Homo sapiens: one gene and its partners. The protein of the gene in region 3 purifies or fractionates together with the protein of the main gene of each other region. This does not show direct contact. Each region holds a gene or a part of one and is shown on either strand. Other genes may lie near its edges.

Evidence for each region. Proteins that work in one complex are often made in the same cells at the same time.
Region 1: the proteins of STRN (region 3) and MINK1 purify together in Homo sapiens (affinity purification with mass spectrometry; 3 studies listed by BioGRID and IntAct, with this or other methods). This does not show direct contact.
Region 2: the proteins of STRN (region 3) and TCP1 purify together in Homo sapiens (affinity purification with mass spectrometry; 3 studies listed by BioGRID and IntAct, with this or other methods). This does not show direct contact.
Region 4: the proteins of STRN (region 3) and FGFR1OP2 purify together in Homo sapiens (affinity purification with mass spectrometry; 4 studies listed by BioGRID and IntAct, with this or other methods). This does not show direct contact.

What each region holds. Positions count from the first base shown.
Region 1 is NC_000017.11:4,839,840-4,843,339, reverse strand, and holds part of MINK1 (misshapen-like kinase 1), read right to left. Parts: intron 1-3,500. UniProt on the Homo sapiens protein: Serine/threonine kinase which acts as a negative regulator of Ras-related Rap2-mediated signal transduction to control neuronal structure and AMPA receptor trafficking.
Region 2 is NC_000006.12:159,779,603-159,783,102, forward strand, and holds part of TCP1 (T-complex protein 1 subunit alpha), read right to left. Parts: intron 1,509-3,500; coding exon 1,333-1,508; intron 965-1,332; coding exon 841-964; intron 780-840; exon of another isoform or gene 648-779; intron 486-647; coding exon 293-485; intron 189-292; coding exon 25-188; intron 1-24. UniProt on the Homo sapiens protein: Component of the chaperonin-containing T-complex (TRiC), a molecular chaperone complex that assists the folding of actin, tubulin and other proteins upon ATP hydrolysis.
Region 3 is NC_000002.12:36,837,537-36,841,036, forward strand, and holds the end of STRN (striatin), read right to left. Parts: 3' UTR 162-3,500; downstream 1-161. UniProt on the Homo sapiens protein: Calmodulin-binding scaffolding protein which is the center of the striatin-interacting phosphatase and kinase (STRIPAK) complexes.
Region 4 is NC_000012.12:26,964,809-26,967,148, reverse strand, and holds the end of FGFR1OP2 (FGFR1 oncogene partner 2), read right to left. Parts: 3' UTR 501-2,340; downstream 1-500. UniProt on the Homo sapiens protein: May be involved in wound healing pathway.

The DNA.
Region 1 (3,500 bases), on a different chromosome or scaffold from region 3:
TGCCTGGCTAATTTTTTGTATTTTTAGTAGAGACAGGGTTTCACTATGTTGGCCAGGCTGGTCTCGAACTCCTGACCTCAAGTAATCTGCCTGCCTCAGCCTCCCAAAGTGCTGGGATTACAGGCATGAGCCACTGCGCCCAGCCCAAACCAACTTCTGATCCACATCCTGCCTGTTCCCCCTACCCTGCTTCGACACGTGGGGCTCAGGTAGTTTCCACTGTGAGGAATGACCTTGTTAAGGTTAGGCGGACTCTCTCCACCTCCTCCAAACCTTAGCTACCCAAGGCCAGGAGCCTACCAAGTTCTGCTCTCTTGACTGGGACTGGGAAACAGCGAGCTGTGGAAGGCAGCTCTGCACAGCTCCAGCTCATCCCGCTCAGCTGTGCTGCTTCCCAGCCACTGGTCCACCCTGAAAGGATACACTAGGGCAAGGTGTCTTCTACTGTCTCTGGTCACTCCCCCAGATGTAAGTAATGACATTCATTCACCACACCTCTGTCTTCAAAAAGACAAGTGTAGGATGAAAAGACCCCAGAGAAGAGACGATGTGCTGGCCCCTCTCTAAGACGCCACATGCACCTGCCTATCTTTGCCTCACGCTGCTTAGGCTTTGGGGCACTCTGTCCAACTGTTTTCTTGAAGACTCTTTCCTGAGTCACTTAGAACTAAAGACTAAGTATTGCAAGCTTCAGCCACTTTCTTAAAAATGTGCCTTGAAAGAAAGAGTGGGTGGGTGGTGAAAAGAGAACATGAAAATCTTCCTTACAGTCTGGCTGGGAGCCTACCTATTTTACCTCCAGAGGTATGCTAGCAGACAAAAGCTGCTAGATATGTGCCATGCACAAGGGTAATTTAGAGCCCACATTCCTCTCTCTACCTGGAAAGAAGTACACAGGGGACTTAGGAACTACTTCCTACTTCATGGAAGAAACCTGTCCAGTCCCTCCCCGGGTCTCTCCCATGTCCATAACAAGTTCATGAGAGGTACCAGTGGCAATACGGGTGGAAAAACAGTTCTTCGATGCACTGTCCCAGACTCTGCCAGATGGTTAACATCCCCAATCCCCATGTGCTAAATGCCGTTAGTGCTCCCAAGGCAGTTTTTTTTTTTTTTTGGACAGAGTCTCGCTCTGTCGCCCAGGCTGGAGTGCAGTGGCGTGGTCTAGGCTCACTACAAGCTCCGCCTCCCGGGTTCATGCCATTCTCCTGCCTCAGCCTCCCAAGTAGCTGGGACTACAGGCGCCCACCACCGCGCCCGGCTAATTTTTTTTTGTATTTTTAGTAGAGACGGGGTTTCACCGTGTTAGCCAGGATGGTCTCGATCTCCTGACCTCGTGATCCGCCCGCCTCGGCCTCCCAAAGTGCTGGGATTACAGGCGTGAGCCACCGTGCCCGGTGCTCCCAAGACAGTTAATCCTCCCTCCTCAGCATTTCCGAACACCCCCTGGAGGCCAGCGGTGCCCTGGCTGAGAACCAGAGTCAGCACCTGTACTGCTTTGTATCCCACCGTGCCCAGCATATACTGGGCACCCTGTACTAATTGTGGATTGAATCTAGTAGGAAAGGTCCAGTCACAGACATACTTAGATCCATGTCTCTTACCAAGTAATTTCTGAACCCCTACTGTGTGCTCAGCATCTTTACAGGGATCAAGAGGAAATATGGATCACAGTCTCTACACATAAGGAAGTGGTAGGAAAAACAAGACCATAAAACATTATTCAATATAAGGCAATATATAAGCCAATGCTAAATTGTAAGGTCTGTGAGAAAGTGGATGATGTGATCAGTAAAGGCTGGCAAAATCGGAGGGGGGGCTTTGTGGGAAAAAAACATAAGTTGAGGTGGCTCTTGAAGGAGGTGGGATTGTCTTCATTCAGCCCTACCGATCCTCAGTCTGTCCCTGCCAGGACCGCTGTTCATAGAAAACTCCTCTAAGCCTGTGGTTCTAGGAGCAATTCGGCAACCCAAGCCCTTCAAATCCCATCCCCAGGTGGTTCCTGGAACAAGACGGTGTGAGAAATTTCCCATTCTTTGTCAGAAGACCAGAGAATATCAGGCCTGCTTTCAGGAGGCCTGCTCATCCCAAAGGCAATGGAAGAAACCACTGGCGGAAGTGCCCGTGCGGAGATGCCCAAGACAGAACCAAAAAGCATTTGGTGCTACGTGTACATACTGAGTCACAGGCTCTAAGTGCTGGGGCCCCCAGTTGTGACCACAGACACTCCCCACGTCGCCTGTCCCGTGTGGCCCTGGAATTTACCTGCTGTGGATGAACCTGAGGTCTCAGCTATCTCCTCTGTCAAAGGTCTTCCTGTCTCCTCCCTCGCCAACTATCACCACGTTTCTTAGGCAGCTCGTCCCCATTTCCTCCATTCATCTCTCTCCAGCCACCCAGGCTCCTCCCACAGGCTGTGCCACCAAACTCTCCTCACAGCCCACCTCACCGTCTTCTACGCTGCCATCCTCCCGACATTCAAGCTGGTCCCAGAGCCTGGCTCCTTCAGGAAGCCCAAGACTTGTGGCTTCCCCAACCCTGTTTCCTTTCAAACACGCAAAATCAGTAACACTCCCCCTCCACACCCCACTCATCCTTTACTTGTATACAATGTAAATGGAGAGTCTTGTCTATTTATATACACTATCTATCCAATGTTAGAAAGAATCCCACTTCCCACAGACCATGCAGCTAAGCTGAGGGCTGGGCCTACTTGTTCTTATTTCCGTGAGACTCACCTACCTTCCAAACTCCAGGCACCCCTTAGGCTAATAACATCTAGGGATACACCCTCCTCTCTCATATACCCCATTCTGAGGAGCCACATCTAAACTACAGACCCAGGACCCAGAGTCCCTCCCCCAGTAAGTAAAAATGAGGATTATATGAGTCATAAGCTCTTTCCATATACATGCTCTTAACTTTTGAGACAAACAAATAAACCATTTTTTTTCCCCTCCCACAGGAAGATTCAGAAGAAATCCTTTTGGAATTAAGCCTGGAGTTTCCACCCCATCCTCAGGCTTCTTGCCCTCAATTGTTGACCAAATGCTTCACCATAAGAATGGCCCCATTCCAGAGTCTCCCAATTCTCACCATCACCAAACTCTACCTGCTGGTTCAACTCTATCTCATCTTTCTGCAGCAATGCCAGTTTAGCTTTCTGACATGATTTACGTCTCTCTCAATCAACTAGATATTTTTGTCTTATAAAAGTTTTGTCTCGTAAAAGCAATTTTTTTTCCATGACACAGCCCTCAGGAGATCCTGAGAACATATGCTCAAAACAACTCTTGTTATATGTGCCCACGGCATGTTAAAGTTTTCACTACAGTCCTTATCATGGCTTGCAATCACACACACACACACACACACACACACACACACACACACACACACATTAATAAATAATTACTTGATTAATGTCTCTCCCTACTACTAGACTGTATCACCACTGTGTCCTCTGTGCCTAGTTCTAGATCTTTCCTCAAACAGAACAC
Region 2 (3,500 bases), on a different chromosome or scaffold from region 3:
CAAAGAGCGGGAAACCATGCTTACCATTTTAGATTTTTACGTTCTGGGTTAACCTGGGCCTCATTATGAAAAGCTCTTAATTTTGCAACCAGATCTGTGGAGTCCTGGGCAGCATTAACTGCTAGTGTATTGGGAATAACAAGAAGTGATCTTGCAAACTCTGCAATCGCAAGCTGTTCCCGAGACCCCTAGGAAAAGAAGAAAATTAGGTGACTTCACAAAAGGGAAAAAAAAAATTGAAGTCCACAGCTACTGCTCTCAGGCCTCTAAGACAAGAAATGACTGTTCTTACCATGCTGGTTGCATAGTTTTCAAGGTATATGGAAAGGGCTGCTTCTACAGCACCCCCACCGGGAACCACAGATTTTGACTCCAAAACTCTCTTCACTACACAAAGTGCATCATGTAAAGAGCGCTCCATCTCATCACACATGAAATCATTTGCCCCACGTAAGATAATCGATGCAGACGTACGAGCCTTAGTACTGTTCAAAACAAAAGTACAATTCTTGTAATAGCATTTTTAAAAATTTTTTTTTGCCAAGACCATCAATTTCTCAAAAAAAATGGCATTTTAATAAAATAAGTCTACATAAAGTTCCCTTAAGTCCTGCCTACACAGGATATTTAGATATACTATACAGAAACAATGTCTAGTCCCTGCAGAAGAGATGAAAATGGTTACTTCATCTCAATTTACAGTGGCCCAATGTTATTTTATCCCATGCGTATAACTGCTCGTATCACTGTGAGACTACAAGCAGCAAATAAATGGGAAGAAAACCTACTTTTACTTAACAAAATCGGTATAACTTTACAATTTTAGAAAGTGGCTCTTACTTTTTGATTAAGATCAGCTCATCATCACAAATTCTCTCCTGTACCACTTCTTCTGCCTGTCCCAACATTGCAGCTTCAAAAGTTTCTTCACCTTCCAAATTGGCCAGGGTTGACAGAATAGTTGCTAATAAGAGAGTTACAAAGGATCTGTGAATATTGCTCTTTCATGATTTTAATATCCTTGGACTCAGTAGCATTTGTGGTAAAAGTGCTATATTACAAGTTTAGAATTTAGTTAGGCAGCACACGGTAACTCCTTTTATCCTAAGATGGAACTGTCATTTTAGAAATGAACAAATTCAGTTCACAAATTTCCAACAAAATTTCTCCAGTTACATGAAAAATGGCTCTATAAATGTGTTGGTAGCACAAAGCATTAAGAGAATATAAATGTTTTTGAGCTGTTTTCTGTCAATATTCCAATGTAAAAAGACCTTTGATAGGATCAGGGATAATAAAAGTATTTTATGTGACAGCCAGCACAAGACATACCTCCAGAAGCTTTGGCAATGCGTTTAAGGTCCCTTTTTAAAACTCTTCTAACTGCCATAGCACCAGCCTCCACAAAATACTTCAGACACATATCATCAATTCCACCAGTGGTTAGAATAACATTGGCACCAGTTGCCAGGATCTTCTGAATTCTCTCCTTGGTGATATCTGATTCTCTGCAAAGTATTTTTGTAACCTGAGTTACCTTCTGTGATTTTTAAAAATAATTTAACTTCCATTAAGTATTTATCACAAGATAATCATAGATCAAATTGTATTATCCTTTGTTATCTCTGACCAGAATTTAAATTAGTCCAATTCATGGAAAATTTGAAGGAATTAAAAATTACCACTTAGCTCTCCCCAACCCAAATTTGAATTACTAATTGAGAACTATGGTTAAACAGGGAACACAGGTCCTGCCTTCAAGGATCTAGTGGGGAGAGGGATTACCAATCACACTCCAGGGCAAGTGTCACTAAAGTGGTATGCAGAGATTACAAGCACATAAAAGACATAAATTTAGCCTAGGAGGTGGACAATGAAGATGAGTCCAGGCCAAGTGCAGTGGCTCACGCCTGTAATCCCAGCACTTTGGGAGGCTGAGGCGGGCAGATCACCTGAGGTCAGGAGTTCGAGACCAACCTGGCCAACACGGTGAAACCGCCTCTACTAAAAATACAAAAAATTAGTTGGGCCTGGTGGTGGGCGCCTGTAATCCCAGATACTCAGGAGACTGAGGCAGGAGTATCACTTAAACCCGGAAGGCGGAGGTCGCAGTGAGCCGAGACCGTGCCACTGCACTCCAGCCTGGGCAACAAGAGCAAAACTCCGTCTCAAAAACAAACAAACAAACAAAAACAGGAGTCCAGAGTTGAAAGCACAAAAGAAGGCAGAACCAGAAAAGTGAAAAACCTTGCAGGTTACACCAAACAATCTAGATACTAAGCTTAATATCTCTAAGCAAGACTAGTATATCATCTGTGTTTTCAAAAGGATTCCCTGATTATCAATGTGGAAACTGCACTGAATGGCTGAAGACAAGAAGATAATAACATGAGATATAAGCTGAAAGACAACCTAAACAGAAAAGTCAAATTTTATGGCTTGGGTGACTCCTGGAGTAAAATAAATAACAAGAGTTTTGGGGGCAGGATGGGAAATGAGAGTTTAGTTGAGGACAAGATTAAGTTTGAAGTCTCTGCTGTTACTCAGGTGAAGCTCCCAGGAGGCAGTCACTTACATCATGGAAACCATAAACTATGGGAGATCCAGATTTGAAGAGTCAATATGAGTGAAGCCATGTGAATAGATCATTCGAAGAATTTTTAAAGTAAAATGAATTACAGATCAACCTCAAAAGCAGCTTGTCTACTAAACAAGTACTGTGTGCTACACACTGTTATATAAACTCATGGTAAAAACTGTAATAAGCCCCAGGAAGAAAAAATACAGGAAGTTACAACAGAATATAATTTAGATTGAAGAAGAAAGAAAAGCTTCTCTAAGAGACTAGCTTGGGTGTGTTTCTACAACAGTCTAGGCAAGAAAATGAAAAGTAGGTAAATTTAATTTGGAGGTAGAAATCAAGCGGTCTTGGTGACAGATTAGGAGAAAAAGTGTTGGTAAAAAGGAGGAGTTAAGGACATTTCCTAGTTTTCTGCCTGTGTGAAGGACTCCCCATCACTAAAATGGTCAAAAGCAGATTTGCGGTATTATCACAAGTTCAGTTTTAGACATGTTCACTTTGAGATGCTTGAAAAGCATTCTACTAGATAGAGGTATGTGTGTTTGGAGCTTAGAGAAACAGCTGAAAGAGTCTCTGGCATAGAGAGATAATACATGAAGTCATGGGAACAAAGGGGCTATCCTGGAGAGTATTATGACATGGTCCAGACAAAGCAGCATCACAAAGCCTTCCATCCCCGAAAGCATTTCAAGAAGGACATAATCAAAGGGTTGCTAAAGGTCAAGTAAGAGGAAGGCTGAAAATGTCTTCCGAATTTCACGCTAGAGACCTTAACATGCAGTCCCTCAAATGGAGAACAGGGCTGAAAAGGGATGAGAAGAAAAGCACCAGAGAAGTTTTGTGTAGTAAACCACTCATGACATCTGCCTGTAAAGATGTACGATAGGGAGTACCTATAGCACAAGGATGTATGAAGAAG
Region 3 (3,500 bases):
ATAGTTTTGGAGAAAAACACTGGCAAATAGTAAGAAAAAGGGTTTACATGTAGTATAAAAAGAGCACCTGCAAATTTTAAAAAACACAGTGGAACATGGGCAAAACTTTAATAAAATAACAAAATAAACATTTTAAAATGCAAATATGCAATTCACTCAAGTGAAATTCAAAAGGCAAAGTTTTATTTGGAAAAAGTACTTTTGAATGTGGTCAACAGACAACTTACAAGAGTTGGAAAAAAATGTTTGCATCCAAGATAAGAAAATCTGAACATATATTGTACAACATACAAAATGCTTTCACAAACTAGTTAACTAAAAAGACAAACGGTACAAACATATGGACCAAAAATAAGAAAAATTTAAAAATGTATATAAAAGTATAACTACGAATATTTGTGGTAGGCAGAATTCTAAGATGGCCCCCATGAACTCTGCCCCTCATGTTACTTCCATGGTTGATGTTACATTGCAGGGCAGAGGGACTTGGCAGATGTAATTAAAGCTACTAATCAGTTGACCTTAACAATCTGGGTGTGCTTAAACTAGTCACAAGAGCCCTTTAAAAGCAGTTTTCTCTGGCTGGTAGAAGTAGAGTCAAAGTATAAAAATAATTTGATGCACCCTGGCAAGCTTTGAAGGTGGAAGGGACCACGTGCAAGGACCACGGAGCAACCTCTAAAGGATCAGATTTGACAGTCAGCTAGGAGACAGGGACCTCCATCCTCTGACTTTAATGAGGCTGGAAGCGAATTCCTCCTCAGAGCTTTAGTTGAGTACCCACCCTGGAAGACACTTTCATTTCAGCCTTGTTGGGCCTTGAACAGACAGCCCAGTTGAGTTTCCCTGGAGTTCTAACCTACAGAACTTTGAATAGATAATTCAGTTCTGAGTGCAATCCAGATGACCAAAACATTTGAAAAGATGTCTACATTTATAGTAGTCAGGAAAATGGAAATTAAAATAACACTGAAAAATCACTACATCCACCAGGATTTTTTTCTTTTTTCTACGTATTTTTTAATGTTACAATAGTTATTGCCATGAGTATTAAGGGAAAAGTGTTTTTATACATTTACTGATGGAAATAAAAACTGTTCCGGCCACTTTGGGAAACAATCTGTCAATATTTATTTAAAAATTTAAATATACATACTCCTCAATGCAGCAATCCTACTCCAGGGAATCTATTCCGCAGACGTAAAACCATCATGGTGACAAACATATACACAGGAATGTTTATTGTAATAATAAAAAGGAAATAAGAGCTATGATAGACTTAGAGAAATTCTCATCCTACATTGTTAAATGAGAAATGTGAGATGCAGAGAACGTACATGATCCCATTTATTTAAAGCAAACTGCCCACCAAAATATCTTCTCATTAACGTTAGACTGTATATGTTTACTGATAAATTTGAGAGACCTTTAAAAATTTGTAAGGTGCTCATGATACACATTATATTAGAAAAAGCAAGTGCAGCATAATATGTAGAATAAAACCCCATATGTAATAACTGGGTATACACATTTGTATGAATAATTAGAAAGATACATATCAGGGAGGTAGGAATGAAGGGGTATGATGGGACATGCTTCGTTTTGCCATTATGAATCTTTATGCATTGTTTTTTGCATTTAAATTCATTTCTGTCACTTTCTTAACCTGAAAAACATCAAATCATCCCCCTTCCCTGCTCTATTTTTTTTCCCTCTGCACTTATCACTAATATTCCCTATATTTTCACTTGTTCCCCCACCTGGAATGTGCTGCATCAGGTGAAGTTTTTGTTTACTGCTGACTGCCAGCAACTAGAACTGTGTGGCATATAGCTGGCACTCAAATATTAAGGAAAGTAGTCTTCTGCTACTCTTGATGTTCATTTTAACCTATTTCTCCTAAAACCCTGATGTTCTAGAAGCTATCAGGAGTGTGACCGAACTACATGACCAGAAGTCTGTATTCAGAGAGTGAACAAGTCATTTGCTGGATGCTTATTTTATTAGGTGTTTTACATCCGTTATCTCAAATCAACCTAATTAGGCAGATCTATTATCCCCATTTCATAGATGAGAAGCCAATTTAGAAGAGTTGACTTGTCTAAAATCTAACAGACAATAAATGTCCTATTGTCCAGGCCAAATTCCTGCTTTCTTCTGTGTTGAACTGATCTTAAAGGAATCATATTTTTAGTAATTTTAATGACAGTTCTTACATGGTATATGTTTAATGTTGAGATTATTCGTTGAATATTTCATATGTAATTTGCTGATTCTTTTAATGATTTAAAGTCATTTGAATATTAAATATAAATAGTTGGTCTCTAACTTGTTGACTGTTTTATTCCTAAAACAATTGCACTGTTCAGCTAAAGCCCTGGGCCCTGCTGGAGTGCTGTCAGAAAACCAAAGACAGAGATGTTCCTAGGAGAGTTAATAAACATTGGTACAATTACTATAAAATCTTCAAGACAAAAACCAGCCTGAGAGCATCCTGAGGAACTTTGTCCCAGAATTTTCCTCTCCAAAGAAAGCTCCCCAGAGGGATGCCTTTCCTGACAAGATTCCACTGGGAGGTTCGTCTTTCTCCTGGACAACAGCAGTCAGTAGGGCCATCTGTAGGTTGCAAGGAAAGAGTGTGGAAGTGGACCTGTTCTGAGCCCAGGATAATCAAGGCAGGCTCAGGTTCCAGGCTAGAAAAGCTCCCTTTCAACTGATCAGAGGCCAGTGGGGAACAGGGGATGAGCAGAGGAGATATGGGGGTCCGGGGATAGATGGGAGGTCATCAACAGGGTTTAGGGACACCTTCCTGTCCCCACCATGCTCTGCTCAGTTTTCACGCAGGCAGGACTGGAACTGTGCAGTATAAAGACGTTGCTACTCAGGCATTTTGTTGCTACCTGTGAGGTAAAGTCCAAATTCCTCTCCAGTCAAGGTGCAGACCTCAATCTCAGGATAAGCTCCACAGAACCAAATGCATTTGAGCATCAACTGTCAAGAGATTTTTTTTTTTTTTTTTTGGTCTTTGATGATTTGTATAATTTAGATTTTGAAATGGGCTCTCTGATTACTCAGCCAACAAATATTTATAGGGTACCTTTTATATGGCAAGGCACCAGGCACAGTGCTAAGAGGAACATAAGAAAAACGAACATGGTCTGTGCCTTAGGGAGCTTATATAGACAAAAGCAAACAAATAATCATTAACCTTTATTTTTGTAGGTGACAAATGAGCAATGCATAATATGCAAAATCTGGGTTAAGGGAGAGAATCAAGATATTCAGAAAAAAAATCTCATTACCTGCTCCTCATGCCTCAAAAAAAATCCAGAAGATTTTGAAATGCAGGAGATAAACATCACATATTCCTTATTAATCTTTGTATTCCAAAAATAATTTCTGAAAATCACAGGAAAGAAAACTTTTGTGTATTTATTAGCAGAGGCAAGCTATACTATCAATTGGACACCTCAAGGGCACAAAATTGCCTGGAACTACAA
Region 4 (2,340 bases), on a different chromosome or scaffold from region 3:
GAAGTCTGAAATCAAGCAGGCTTGGTCCTTTCTGGAGCCCGTGAAGAACCCATTCCATGCCTCTCTTGCAGCTTCTGGTGGTGGCTAGCAGTCCTTGCGTAACTCATTGCCTCTGTCCTCATGCTGCTATATCTGTGTTTCATATCTCCTCCTCTCTTATTGTAACGACACTAGTCACTGGGTTTGGAGCCCACCCAAAATCCAGGGTAATTATATCCTGAGATCCCCTAATCACATCTGTAAAGACTATTTCCAAATATGGTCACCTTCCCAGGTGTATCAAGTTAGGACTTAGACTTACCTTCTAGGGGACATGATTCAACCTACTACAAATGGTAAGAAGTTCTGCAGGATCCACACTAAGAAGCTGCTAATTCCTAAGGAATACAGATAGAGGTCACTGCTAAGTAGTTTTGCACTAAGAAGAGACAAAAAACCTTAAAATTAAACCATATATAAGAATAAGGGTAAGCACTTTTCAAATTAAATTGGAGACCATACCAATTTTAATCATTCATCTTTAATAATAAAATAGGTTCCTATGCAGTACATACCTCAAACATAAACTTAAGGTTCTGTTTAACAACAACCAAAAAAAAAAAAAAAATAGGATGGAAATGTGTCACTAAATAACAAAGTAAATGTCTTTAAACATGAAGACCTTAAATTCATATCCAAGCAAAAAGACGAAGAATAAGTTAACCCAACTTGTTTACAAAAATAATTATTTATCAAGTAAGCTTTTATAGTAGAGCTGCCTCAATGAACTGCCTCAGACTTAATCTCAATGGTGTAGCTTGAAATAGATTTCCTTTATTAGCAGGGATAAGAAGTATCTGAATGAATGTGTCATTAAATTAAGGAATACTTTCCCAAAAACAATAAAAAGTTTAAAAATAAAAACTGTCATTTATTTATAAAATATCAAATAAGGCCTCTGACTGAAAAAAAGAAATCTATATAATGTTTGGGCCATTAGCCCTTTTCTATTCAATCAGTCTCATCCACCCCATTCACCCCAAACTTAAGATAAAAAAATTCTCAAGTGTAGTTTTGAATTTTACCAATATATGAAATTATACATAAAATTACCATATAAAGTAATATTTAACAAATTATATACTCAAAGTATAATTTTCCATTTGTCTTAATTTTAATACGTATTCAACATAAATGAGTACAATATATTTAACCATGTTTGACACTCTTCTTTTATCCCTTTTTAATACAATCACCACAACATAAGAAAATTTAGGTTTCAACTGATGTTAAAGCACATTTCTGTATCTGGTGGTTTTTAAAAAAATTACATATTATATATTTGACATTTTAAAAGACAACAGAAACAAATCCACAGATTACTCCACCTTTACCCCCACTTTCAGCTGAAAGGTTTTAAGAAAAATCTTGCAGGTTATGAGGACCAGATGGAGCTTAAAAACAGATCCGGAACTTTTTTTTTGAAATTGTATTTACTTTTTTTTTTTGTATCTCAAGAATACTTAAAGGAAAAAAAAAAGGGTTCTATGAGCCAGAGGAATTCCCAATTCACTTTGAAATTACCATACCTATCTTGCCATATCAAACATTTCAATTCTGTTAACTAAATGAACTACATAATATCCTTAAAAATCAGCCAGAGAAGAGAAAAACAAATCTCGTCTTCATTATTGACTTTGAACCAAAACTTATTCTTTCAAAGGAGTAGTTTAACCTACTAAATATGTCTATTATAAGATCTTCTTTCTTAGAAAGTAGTATTCCTTCTTTTTCATTCCTGAAATGGTATTTCTTACACTTAAACAAGTTATGGACAATTGTTAGCTAAGTATCAGTTATGATAAATTGCTAAAATTAAATTATCTGTTTAAGGTACATATAACACATTCCTATAGCCTTTAAAACTGTATTTTCTTTCACAAAAATTTAAATAAATGTGAAAGTAGGCAATCACTAGAAGTCTCATGGTACATAAACTTTGCATCAACTTTGACGCCAAATAAGGATGAAATTTAGCGTACAAATCCTCCGTTCACAAAACAGTGGCAAAAATTTATATTTTTAAATTGGTATAATTTTATGCATTCTCAAACATTTACTGGGAATATTCAAGTTTACCTAATTAATCACCCAGAAAGCCAGCAGTACTGCCAAAAGCTCTTGGTATATTCAGTAGTCACTGTGAAAACTTTTCATTTCTTTACCATTTGGCAATGGCTCAGTTTCTATTTTCCAATTATGTTTTGGAATAAAGTCTATGACCATTAACTATGCATTTTTTGTTGCTATCTCATAGCCCGTGCACTGTACATATTTACAGAGAAAAAAATAAAGGATTGA